Homo sapiens: one gene and its partners. The protein of the gene in region 2 purifies or fractionates together with the protein of the main gene of each other region. This does not show direct contact. Each region holds a gene or a part of one and is shown on either strand. Other genes may lie near its edges. The genes, in order: PTH2R, SPTLC2 and HEATR3.

Region 1 (3,733 bases), on a different chromosome or scaffold from region 2:
CACAAGATGCATGCACTCTGACCCTTTAGGTTATTTTGTTTGTTTTCTTGTTGTGATCATATGTATCATATTCAACATTTTTAATTTGTAGTTATTTTAAAGTTAATTTAAAGTTTTGTCTTCACAAAACTTATTTATTTTGTATTGACGTGTCTTATGAAAATAACTCCACTTTGGGAGGCTGAGGTGGGCGGATCATGAGGTCAGGAGATCGAGACAATCCTGGCTAACATGGTGAAACCCCGTCTCTACTAGCCGGGCGTGGCAGCGTGCGCCTGCAGTCCCAGCTGCTGGGGAGGCTGAGGCAAGAGTATGGTGTGAACCCGGGAGGCGGAGCTTGCAGTGAGCCGGGATCATGCCACTGCACTCCAGCCTGGGTGACAGAGCAAGAATCCGTCTCAAAAAAAAAAAGAAAATAACTCAACTTTCAGTAAATGCACATACTAGATAACATTTAAATTTATATTAAATTTACTTAATTTAACATTTAAATTTAAAACAACATTTACATGTCAAGTATTTTTGCCTTTATTTCTGTGTTCTAAATTATGTAACAATTCATATTAAGACTCGTGATAAAAAATCCTTAAAGGATCCCAAAGTAGTTTTCTGTTCTTCATTCTTCCATGGTAGTCTCTATGCTAGTCTTATGCATAAGATTCTCTAAGAAGGTGAGAAAAGCAATTCTATGAAGACATAATGCCTGTGTACGATATTTGACATAATTATCATCTAAAACATAATGCCAACTCAACCACCATTAATAAATACTGTATAGAACAGCATTCAGGAAGTACCTGATCAGAAGAATGTAAAGGAAGCAGAAGATGCAGATATAAGAATGATAAGATGTGAAAATTGATGAAAGACAGGCAGACACTTTTTGAAGACAACCAAGATAGAACAGCTGAGGGATCTATGTCAGGCCATGTGGTAGAATCTATGCCAGACTGTATGGTGGATTTATATCTAATCATCCTACCAGAAGCAGCTGTCCCCTCCCCATTACATAGTATCACTTTTATTTATTCTTCATAGCACCAATTCATAACCAAAAGCAACTGAAGTTGCTTTGTTAATTTTGACTGCTTCACCAGAATATAAGTTTTAGAAAACAGGGATATTGTTTATTTGTTCATTATTTATATCATTTAGAACAATCTTTGACACATAAATAGACAATAAATGATTAATGGAGAAATGTGATAGATAGATAGATAAATAGATAGATAGATAGATAGATAGAATATGCAAACTGAACCTAAGAAATAACCAGAATTAGGTAGGTCTATTTTGACAAAAAATTCCTAGAACACAGAATTTGAGCAGATTAAAGAAAGAATACTATAGAAACAAGAAATAAAATTGGAATATAGAATCATAAAATTCAGTAGTGATATAGGCAGGCTGAACTTAAGTTAGATGGTCACTAAGGAGACCAAAGACATTATTGTGCATATCATCATTTTCATCTTTTTCTGAAAATTTTCTTTTTCTAAGCCTATTTCTTTGTTCACTTTGTTGCTAAGAAAGAATATAAAAAAATTACAATTTTTTTAAAGGTTAAGAATTTAAAGTTATGCTTGATAAAAAATGTTCTTGGCTAGACCAAAATTTTGTTTTCCCCTTTTGTAAGGTGCTTCCTAGATTCTAAAATGTTTTCCTTATGGTTTCTGTATATCCTTTATTTAAACCACTTTCATAAAGGCCACATAATGAAAAGTCATCTCTTAAGTCTTTCAGTCCCCTACTGCAGTATTCCATATAAGTTATGGTTCATGATTTTTTTGTGTGTGATGTCAGAGTTTAATCAAATACAACATGAGCTGGACAGTGAACTTTTACTGGGGGGCAAACGAAAGTCGGTATAATGGATTTGATGTTACAAGCCCAGAAGGTGTTTAGCACTTATGAAGGACAAATATCTCGCGCTCAAATCATCAGACAAATATAGTGGTCACCCTTTTCTATTAATGCATGAAAATGCTTCTGTCTTGTGCCAACGTGAACTAAAAGAAGAGACTAAACTGGTTAAAACTTCCTGATTTTTATAACTTGCCTCAGTATGCCTTCCATTTTTAGGATGAAAAAATTCTAAGTTTTTAAAACAACAGCATCCCTCAGCTTTTCAGGAGTCCCTGTGTTGCTTCACTCCTTGAGAGCATATGATGGTCAGCGTGACAAGAGTCAAAGTCAAATGCCAACCATTGCTTACTTCCAACCCTAGGAACTTCACTCTTCTCCAAATATGGCTTTTCCCTACACCCCTCAGATGAAAATTAGGCCAGTTTTTATCTTCAGACTAGAGGAACAAATAACATCAATATTCTTGCTAATTTCTCAAACTGACATGATTAAAAATTAAGTGGACTTTTCTTGTTCACATATCAGAAATTTTCATGTCTATTTTTATCTCTGAACAGCTAATAGTATATTCTTATATATGGTGAATTTGAGGAAAAAACCTCCTTAATCTTAAAATAAATCTAGTCTCTGAATCATTTTCTGATTTCAGGGTTTCCAGCAGCATTTGTTGCAGCATGGGCTGTGGCACGAGCAACTCTGGCTGATGCGAGGTGAGTGAAAAGGCAGGGGAAACGAGAGAACCTCAGATGTTCTCAAGACTCAGGCTTCCTGCTCAGAATTCACACTCGCTTCTGTTCTTGATGCCATTGCTTTTTAGGGATGCCACAAGGAAAATTACCTTGATGCGATGGTAGCTTCCAACACATTACCAGCAAGCTGTCTATTCCAGAGGTCATAGAGCAGAAACACTCGCAGACTAGATGAAGGTGCCTGACCTCCATAGATTAAGAAACAAATGTAAAATATAATGTGAGAAGCAAGTGGAAAGAGATGGGTAAGAGAATCCACTTAGGATTTAGTGAAAGCAGGTTGAAGAACTACACTACCTGATTCCTAGGATAGGCAGTGTTCATACTCTCTCTCTCTCTCTCTGCCACATCAACTTTTCCTGAGGATGGTGTGGTTATGAGGACCTGCGATAAGGTAGCACGAAGGGGAACTACAGACAGAATCTGGTGCCCTGGGCCAGTGACACATACTTCCTCATAGAGATGGAGAGGCAAGTACACTGGCTACATTTGTAGCTTCTGAATTAGCCTGCAGAGAAGTTCTGGGTTTTATTTGTGGCCCTTGGGAAAAGGACATGTGGGAAGGAGTTCCATCAATCCATGAATCCTCAAAATCAAAATATTTTTGAGGCTGATAATGCCCTCAAAAATATTAAGAACTTCCTTTGTATCAGGGATTGTTCATGGCTCTTGTATATTTAGTATATTATGAATGTTTAGAGCTCAGTTGCCTCATGTGTCTTTAGTACCTGGGTTTAACACACGTGTGGTCTACTAACTCATCCTTATCTATATTTAATGCAAACTGTGGGTTTCATGCATCCCATTTGTTACCATATCTTCTATAGCAGAATTAAATATTTTAAAATAATAAACACATATTAGAAGTGGAATTTATCTCTAACTGTGAGTCATTAAGTTCTTCCAGGTAGCATGGAGCTAATTTAATGTGTCATTTTAAAGTACAAGAAAACAATGCTATAAATCATTTAAAATGTATCATTTTTAAGGATACATTTTAATGTATCATGGTACACCTAATACATTTAAATAACCATTTAAGTGTAAAGGGTACATTTGCATTAAATAGTAAAGAATCCTTTCTTTATATTTTGACAGACCTGAGTTCAAATCTTGAT
Region 2 (3,733 bases):
ATGTATCATGCTTGGACTTTTAAAAATATGAACTTGCTGATTTTATAATCTATATATGAAAATTACTGCAGCCTTTTCTATTCATGAGTATTCATGGTTGAGAAGATTCTAAAACAGTTCTTAGCCCTTTCCAAGCAGATCTTTTAAATTTATTGCTTTGCTCTGTATAACAGAACAGTTGTTTGGATATCTTTTCAAAGATTGACTTACCATAATGTCAAAACCTGCCCAAATATTTAGTCAGTTGGCAATTGCAGACAGAAACGTGTGTTTTAATCTATTTGTGTTTTAGGGAAGATGAGCAAAATAGGATTAAAGATACGATTTTATACTATTACAGATATGTTACTGTTGTCTGGTAAGAATTTTAAGGAAACAGGCTAGGCGCGGTGGCTCATGTCTGTAATCCCAGCACTTTGGGAGGCCAAGGTGGGTAGATCACTTGAGGTTAGGTGTTCGAGACCAGCCTGGCCAACATGGCGAAACCCTGTCTCTACTAAAAATACAAAAGTTAGCTGGGCGTGGTGATGTGCACCCGTAACCCCAGCTATCAGGAAGCTGAGACAGGAGAATCGCTTGAACCCGGGAAGCAGAGATTGCAGTGAGCCAAGATCGTGCCGTTGCACTCCAGCCTGGGCGACAGAGTGAGACACCGTCTCAAAAAAAAAAGAAAGAAAAAGAAAAAAAGAATTGTAAGGAAACAACAAAATGAAACTCAGAAGATGAAAATTTGGGGGTCTAAAGGCTTCATCTCTGGTCTTATGTGTAAAATTTATTTGCAGCACAGTTAATTAGAATGAATCTTAAAGTTAGAAGATGTAAATTCTAGTTGCAGCTATGCCACTTGCTACTTGTAATGTGCCACACACTATTGTGCAACTGTAGGCATGTCACTACCTTGGTGAGAGTCTCCCCACCTATAATATGAAGATAATCATAAATATCCTGCCTACTGTCAAGGGATTTGTGGAGTGCTCAGTGAGGGGGTATGGCTGAAATTCTTTGAGGATGCTAACGCTCCATTAAACGTTTTTTACATTATTATAACTTCTGCTGTTAACAGGTAGAATGACAGAATACAAAATGAGACATTTTACATTTATATTCCATATGGTTTACTCTGTAAAATATTTTATGGTGAAATGGAAAAAAACGAAACAGAACTGATTAGATAGAATGGAGATAGAGGAGATTTACTGTCTTTTTTCCATTCCTTTTTACTTAGGATTATTTTGTTTTCTCTCACCGTGACTTTCCAGGTAAAGAGTGTGTACAACAGTTAGCTGAAAACACCAGGTATTTCAGGAGACGCCTGAAAGAGATGGGCTTCATCATCTATGGAAATGAAGACTCTCCAGTAGTGCCTTTGATGCTCTACATGCCTGCCAAAATTGGGTACGTTTTGTTGCAGATCACAGACCAGTCTGTCCTTATCCTTATCTGTGATGTGAGACCAGGGCTTATGTATTTTGTTAGGGAAAATGGTCTTGTCCTTACTGTGTTAACCTTCATTTGGTACATATGCCATAGATCAAATAGTGGATTCCAAATTGTAAAGTATGTTAATTTGTTCTTCTTTCATTAAACATTTGAGTTTCATGTACTCTCTAGGGGCCTGGGATAGATCAGTGAATAAAATACAAACATCTCTGTCCTTGTGGAGCTTACAGTCTAGTAGGGGGCAACAGTCAGACAGACATAATAAACAAATGAACTGTGTACGATGTTAGAAGGTGTCAAGTGCTATGGAAAAAAATAGAGCAGGACCTATATGGGGAGTTGAGAGTGCCCTGTGGGCGGGCCGATAACACTATTAAATAGGGTGGTCAGGGTAAGGAAGCCTCCTTGGGAAGGAAAATGACATCTGAGCAAAGATTTGAAGGAGCTGACAGCCACTGGAGAAAGAAGCATCTGTGCAAAGGCCACAGTACAGAAGCGAGCTTGCTTAGCTGACGGAAGAGTAGCAAAGAGGTCCCTGGAATTGGAGCACCGTGCCCCAGGGCGAGCAGTGGGCCATGAGGTCAGAGAGGTTTTATCAGAGTGTGTTATTGGATACTTACCAGGTGTGCAGATTACACCAGCTTCTTTGGTTTGTATGAGGCATACATAATGGAAAGCCCTGCCCTAGGATAGCTTTCAATGTATTTGAGAAGTCCAGATGTATAATGAAACCAGAAGACATTTGAAAAGCAAATGAACAGTAATTATACTGAACAAATTTTATTATATGCAAAGTGGCCCTGAAGATGTAGAATAAAGGAGTGACCTGCTTAGTATAGGCTCAGTAAGAAAGGCACATCTTGTTGGATGGGTGAGTTTTGAGCTGGATCTTAAAGCATTTCTCCAGTTTGATTGAACTCATTGAAGGAGCAATTTTTGTAAATTTTTGAATCCCCAGTGTCCACCACAGTCTCCGACACTCAGTAAATGTTTACTGAAATGAATATGGGAGAGGAAATTAAATCAGGGAACCTGGAAGTAATGTGATTCAAAGAGAATGAAAGGGAAGTAAGGAAAAGGTGCTCCCTGAGAGAAAAAGAAGAATTTGGGTTTCAACATGAAGTCATATGGGCAGTTGGTATTATGGCTTCAGAGGGGATGGGGAAGGATTTTCTTCATTCTTCTTTAAGTGGAATTCTCATAAACAAACATGAAGAGTTATCAGATCCAAAGGACTCAGTCTAGAGCTCTCTTTAAAGAAGGCTGTGTCTCCTTTATTCTACATAGGTGCAACTGACTGTGTACACTTTAATTAGGAAAGATTTAGAGAAGGTACAGGACCCAAAAGGGCACAAAAAAGCAATAACTACTAAATATAAGGAAAACAACTCTGTATACAGCATGTATAAAGAAAAGCAAGGTATATTTGGGGAGATAAAAGTTGTAAAGGCATTAAGATGTGTGTTTGTTGAGAAAAAATAAATTTGTGCATTTAAGAAGTTAAAAAAAAAAGATTTAGAGAAGGTAAAGAATTAGAATAAGGCACTAGACAGTTTGGGAGCATGTGCTGAAGATACAGGGCACCCAGGTTCATGCTGACACAAAGGAGGTATGTTGAGGAAGATGTACTGGTACTACAGAGAGTGGGAAAAGGCTGTGAAAAGACTGGCATTAATGTAATGCCAAATGTGCAGGATCTGTATAGCCCAGGCTGGAGTGCAATGGCGTGATCTCGGCTTACTGCAACCTCCACCTCCCAGGTTCAAGCAAATCTTGTGCTTCCGCCTCCCCAGTAGCTGGGATTACAGATGTGTGCCACCACACCTGGCTAATTTTTGTATTTTTTAGTGGAGATGGGGTCTAACCATGTTGGCCAGGCTGGTCTCCAACTCCTGACCTCAGGTGATCTGCCCGCCTCGGCCTCCCAAAGTGCTGGGATTACAGGCACGAGCCACTGGCCCGGCCACATTTTTTTATTCTCAAACAAATGCTGTAAACAGCTTAAAGGAAAAGTTGAAACATAAGGGAGGTCAATAAGAGGAAAAGACAAAAAGCAACATAATTTGGGCCAGGCACAGTGGCTCACACCTGTAATCCCACTTTGGGAGGCCGAGGTGGGTGGATCACAAGGTCAGGAGATCGAGACCATCCTGGCCAACATGGTGAAACCCCGTCTCTACTAAAAATACGAAAATCATCTGGGTGTGGTGGTGCACACCTGTAATCCCAGCTGCTCGGGAGGCTGAGGCAGGAGAATTGCTAGAATCTGGGAGGTGGAGGTTATGGTGAGCCA
Region 3 (3,500 bases), on a different chromosome or scaffold from region 2:
AGAAGAAGTCATATCAAGTTGCTTTATTGAGTCATATTATTAGAATATACCCTTTGGCTTGATCTAACTATGTGTATTAATTAGGTAAGTATTTGAAAAGTTGAGCCACATTTTACAATTTAACGTTATTCCAGAGGTACTTTTTTAAAAAAATAAATCTGTCTTTAGTGAAAGGGCAAATTCAGAATTTTTAAAGATGCCTTCTGCCTTTGCTGTTGCATCCAATGTATGCATGTTACATTCTCCTGCTGATGAATGAACAATCCACACCATTTTCCTTGCACACCAGGCAACATGCATTCTGAAAAATACAACACAGTTAATTAATTCTAATACCACTCCATAAATTTTAAGCAGCAACCCTGGTAGTGCCAATATACTAGCAATTCCCTCAGCATATTTGCTCTTACCACTTAGCACAGTTGCTCACAAACTGCACTGTTAGGAGTACAGCGTCACTAGTAATTAAAAGGACAGTCATAGTAACATTACACTTTGGTGTGCTAATAATTGCTGAAGTGTGAGACTAGTGGATAATAAACTCATTATTATAAAGTACCTCTTAACCTGCTAAGAACTTTACAATGATGACTGATGTTTTTAAGAATCTATTTTTGAAAAATGATACTTGCAAAGCTTTTTTTTTTTTCTTTTTTTTTCTGAGATGGAGTCTCAGTCACCCAGGCTGGAGTACAGTAGTGCAGTAGTGTGATCTCGGCTCACTGCAACCTCCGCCTCTGGGTTCAAGCAATTCTTCTGCCTCAGCCTCCCGAGTAGCTGGGATTACAGGTGCCCACTACCACACCTGGCTAATTTTTGTATTTTTAATAGAGATGGGGTTTCGCCATGTTGGCCAAGCTGGTCTTGAACTCCTGGGCTCAAGCGATCTACCTACTTCAGCATCCCAGAGTGCTGGGATTACAGGCATGAGCCACTGCACCCGGCAACAGTTATTTCTTAGTGTGTCTAATTCCTGGTCCATATTCATAATTTTACAGTTGCCTCAAAATTATCTGTTTACAGAGAGCTTGTTTACACTGCTGAAGTCCACATGTTATGTTTCCTGTGGGGTCTTCTCTTTCTCTCTTAATCTTGAACAGTTCCTCCCCGGCACCACGTGGTTATTCTCACCTCCTGGATCAGTTGTCCAATATAGTGTCCAAAACCTTCTGGATTTGTCTGATTGCTACCTTGTGGTGGTAAATTTGTTTTTTTATCCTTGTATTTCCTACAAACTGACAGTTAGATCTACAGACTAGATTCGATTCAGATCAGTCCTATTTTACGTTTTTTAGAGATGAGGTCTTGCTCCATTGCCGAGGCTGGTCTTGAACTCCTGGGCTCGAGCGACCCTCCCGCCTTAGCCTCACAAAGTTCTGAACTTACAGGTGTGAGCCACTTGCAACTGGCCTAAAGTGTTTTTCTTATGCTTTTAAAAGCAGATTTTTTGTTGTTGTCGTTGTTGTTACAGATAATATTTCTATGCATCTTGACATCATGGAGAAATCCTTTTTGAGAGAGGTAGAGGGGAAAATTTAGTGATTTCCAAAATCATACATCATTTATGGATTTTAATTCACTTTATTTATGAATATAAACTATAATATGTTTAATTTATCTTGCTTATACTTGGTATGTTTATAAGTATTTAAGTCTAATCTCTTGAAGTTTTAATTTTTCCCTGGCATTTGTATATAAAATAGTATGCATGAGTTATTGCCACATTCAAAGTTGGTACTTGTTTTGGAGACTGGTGTTAGTCATACTAAATGTGTTTTGTTGTTTCCAGAACATTGGGTGCTTTCTGCTTGAAGTTACCACCAAAGATCCTTCCCTTGTGGTAGCAGGAGAAGCTTTGGATGCCCTCTTTGATGTTTTTGCAGATGGTAAAGAAGCCGAAAGAGCCTCGATTCAAATTAAATTATTATCTGCTCTGAAAGAATTCCAGCCGGTCTTTAAAATGAAGGTTTGTAGCCATTTAACTTATAAATACATAAGTCTGAACATTCTGTGGGGACAAGGGTGTGTGTAGTTACCGCTGTGCAACTCAGAAGCATGTGCATGACGAATCCCCATATGTAGCACAGCATCCCCAGTACTTTGTAAAATGTTCGTTGACTGAGTCATAGCTCAACAGTGTGACTACTGAATCATTGAAACTGAAGCTAAAATGGTATCTGACAAGTTCTTCTTTTTTTAAGTTTAGTAATTTTGACAATGCTTCATATATGTCAGTATTATACTCTGTATTTTGCAAAGCACTTTCATACACATTTTGCATTTATTTAATTTTACTTTTTTTTGTTTTTTTGAGACAGAATCTCACTCTGTCGCCCATGCTGGAGTGCAGTGGTGCGATCTTGGCTCACTGCGACCTCCCCTTCCCCAGTTCAAGTGATTCTTGTGCCTCAGCCTCCCAAGTAGCTGGGATTACAGGTGTCCACCACATCACCCAAATAATTTTTGTATTTTTAGTAGAAACGGGGATTCGCCTTGTCATCCAGGCTGGTCTCGAACTCCCAACCTCAGGTGATCTGCCCACCTTGGCCTCCCAAAGTGCTGGGATTACAGGTGTGAGCCACTGTGCCCAGCCATATTGTTCTTAAAGGTTACAGTCCTTTAAATTTCTGGATAAAGAGCTTGCAAGATAAGAAAAAAATATCCCCTATTTCCCTGCAGCTTCAAGGAAAGCAGATATATTAATAGTTAGAGTCATCAAACTCTGCAGAAGCAGGTGCTTAAAAAAGGTTAAACAGTGAACTGGGAAAATAACCCCTGACTTCTGAAAGGTCTTTGTTCTGATTGATTTTCCTACTCAGTATGTATTGCTGTGGTAATAACATTTGTTTTTCTTTTATCAAAGGTATAAAGCTCTAATGAGATTTCTTCCTAGCCAGAGGCTAGCCTGTAGTTATTTATGTGAAACTCTTTTTTTTGCTAAATGAAGCCACAATTTGTGTTAAAGGCTATTCAGTGTATATTTAGCTGCAAAATGCATTTATGTACAATCAAGAACTTCTCTTGAGCAGTGTTTCTCAAAAGTGCCCTCCTTGTATCAGCAGCATCAGCCCTTGCCTGATAACTTATTCAAAATGCAGGTCCTCGGCCCCAACTCCTGACCTACTGAGTCATAGACTCTGTGGATGGGCCCACCAGTCTATTTTTCAACAAGCCTTCCAGATGATACCGTTGCACACTAAAACCTGAGAGCCACTGCTCTAGACTAGAGGTGAGATCAAACTCAGATTCCATACAATTGATATAAAAAACCACAGGCCAGGCGCAGTGGCTCACACCTGTAATCCCAGCACTTTGGGAGCCCCAGGTGGGAGGATCACTCGAGTCCAGGATTTCAAGACCAGCCTGGGAAACATAGCAAGAACTTGTCTCTACAAAAAAATTTTTTTAAGTTAGCCATTAAGTGGTGGCTCATGCCTGTCATCCCAGCTACTCAGGAAGCTGAGCAGGAGGATCGTGTGAGTGCAGGAGTTGGAGGCTAC

What was found.
Region 1: the proteins of SPTLC2 (region 2) and PTH2R purify together in Homo sapiens (co-immunoprecipitation; one large-scale study listed by IntAct). This does not show direct contact.
Region 3: the proteins of SPTLC2 (region 2) and HEATR3 purify together in Homo sapiens (co-immunoprecipitation; one large-scale study listed by IntAct). This does not show direct contact.

Annotation. Positions count from the first base shown.
Region 1 is NC_000002.12:208,448,234-208,451,966, forward strand, and holds part of PTH2R (parathyroid hormone 2 receptor isoform 1 precursor), read left to right. Parts: intron 1-2,515; coding exon 2,516-2,576; intron 2,577-3,733. UniProt on the Homo sapiens protein: This is a specific receptor for parathyroid hormone. The activity of this receptor is mediated by G proteins which activate adenylyl cyclase. PTH2R may be responsible for PTH effects in a number of physiological systems.
Region 2 is NC_000014.9:77,519,108-77,522,840, reverse strand, and holds part of SPTLC2 (serine palmitoyltransferase 2), read left to right. Parts: intron 1-1,259; coding exon 1,260-1,395; intron 1,396-3,733. UniProt on the Homo sapiens protein: Component of the serine palmitoyltransferase multisubunit enzyme (SPT) that catalyzes the initial and rate-limiting step in sphingolipid biosynthesis by condensing L-serine and activated acyl-CoA (most commonly palmitoyl-CoA) to form long-chain bases.
Region 3 is NC_000016.10:50,100,470-50,103,969, forward strand, and holds part of HEATR3 (HEAT repeat-containing protein 3), read left to right. Parts: intron 1-1,789; coding exon 1,790-1,966; intron 1,967-3,500. UniProt on the Homo sapiens protein: Plays a role in ribosome biogenesis and in nuclear import of the 60S ribosomal protein L5/large ribosomal subunit protein uL18 (RPL5). Required for proper erythrocyte maturation.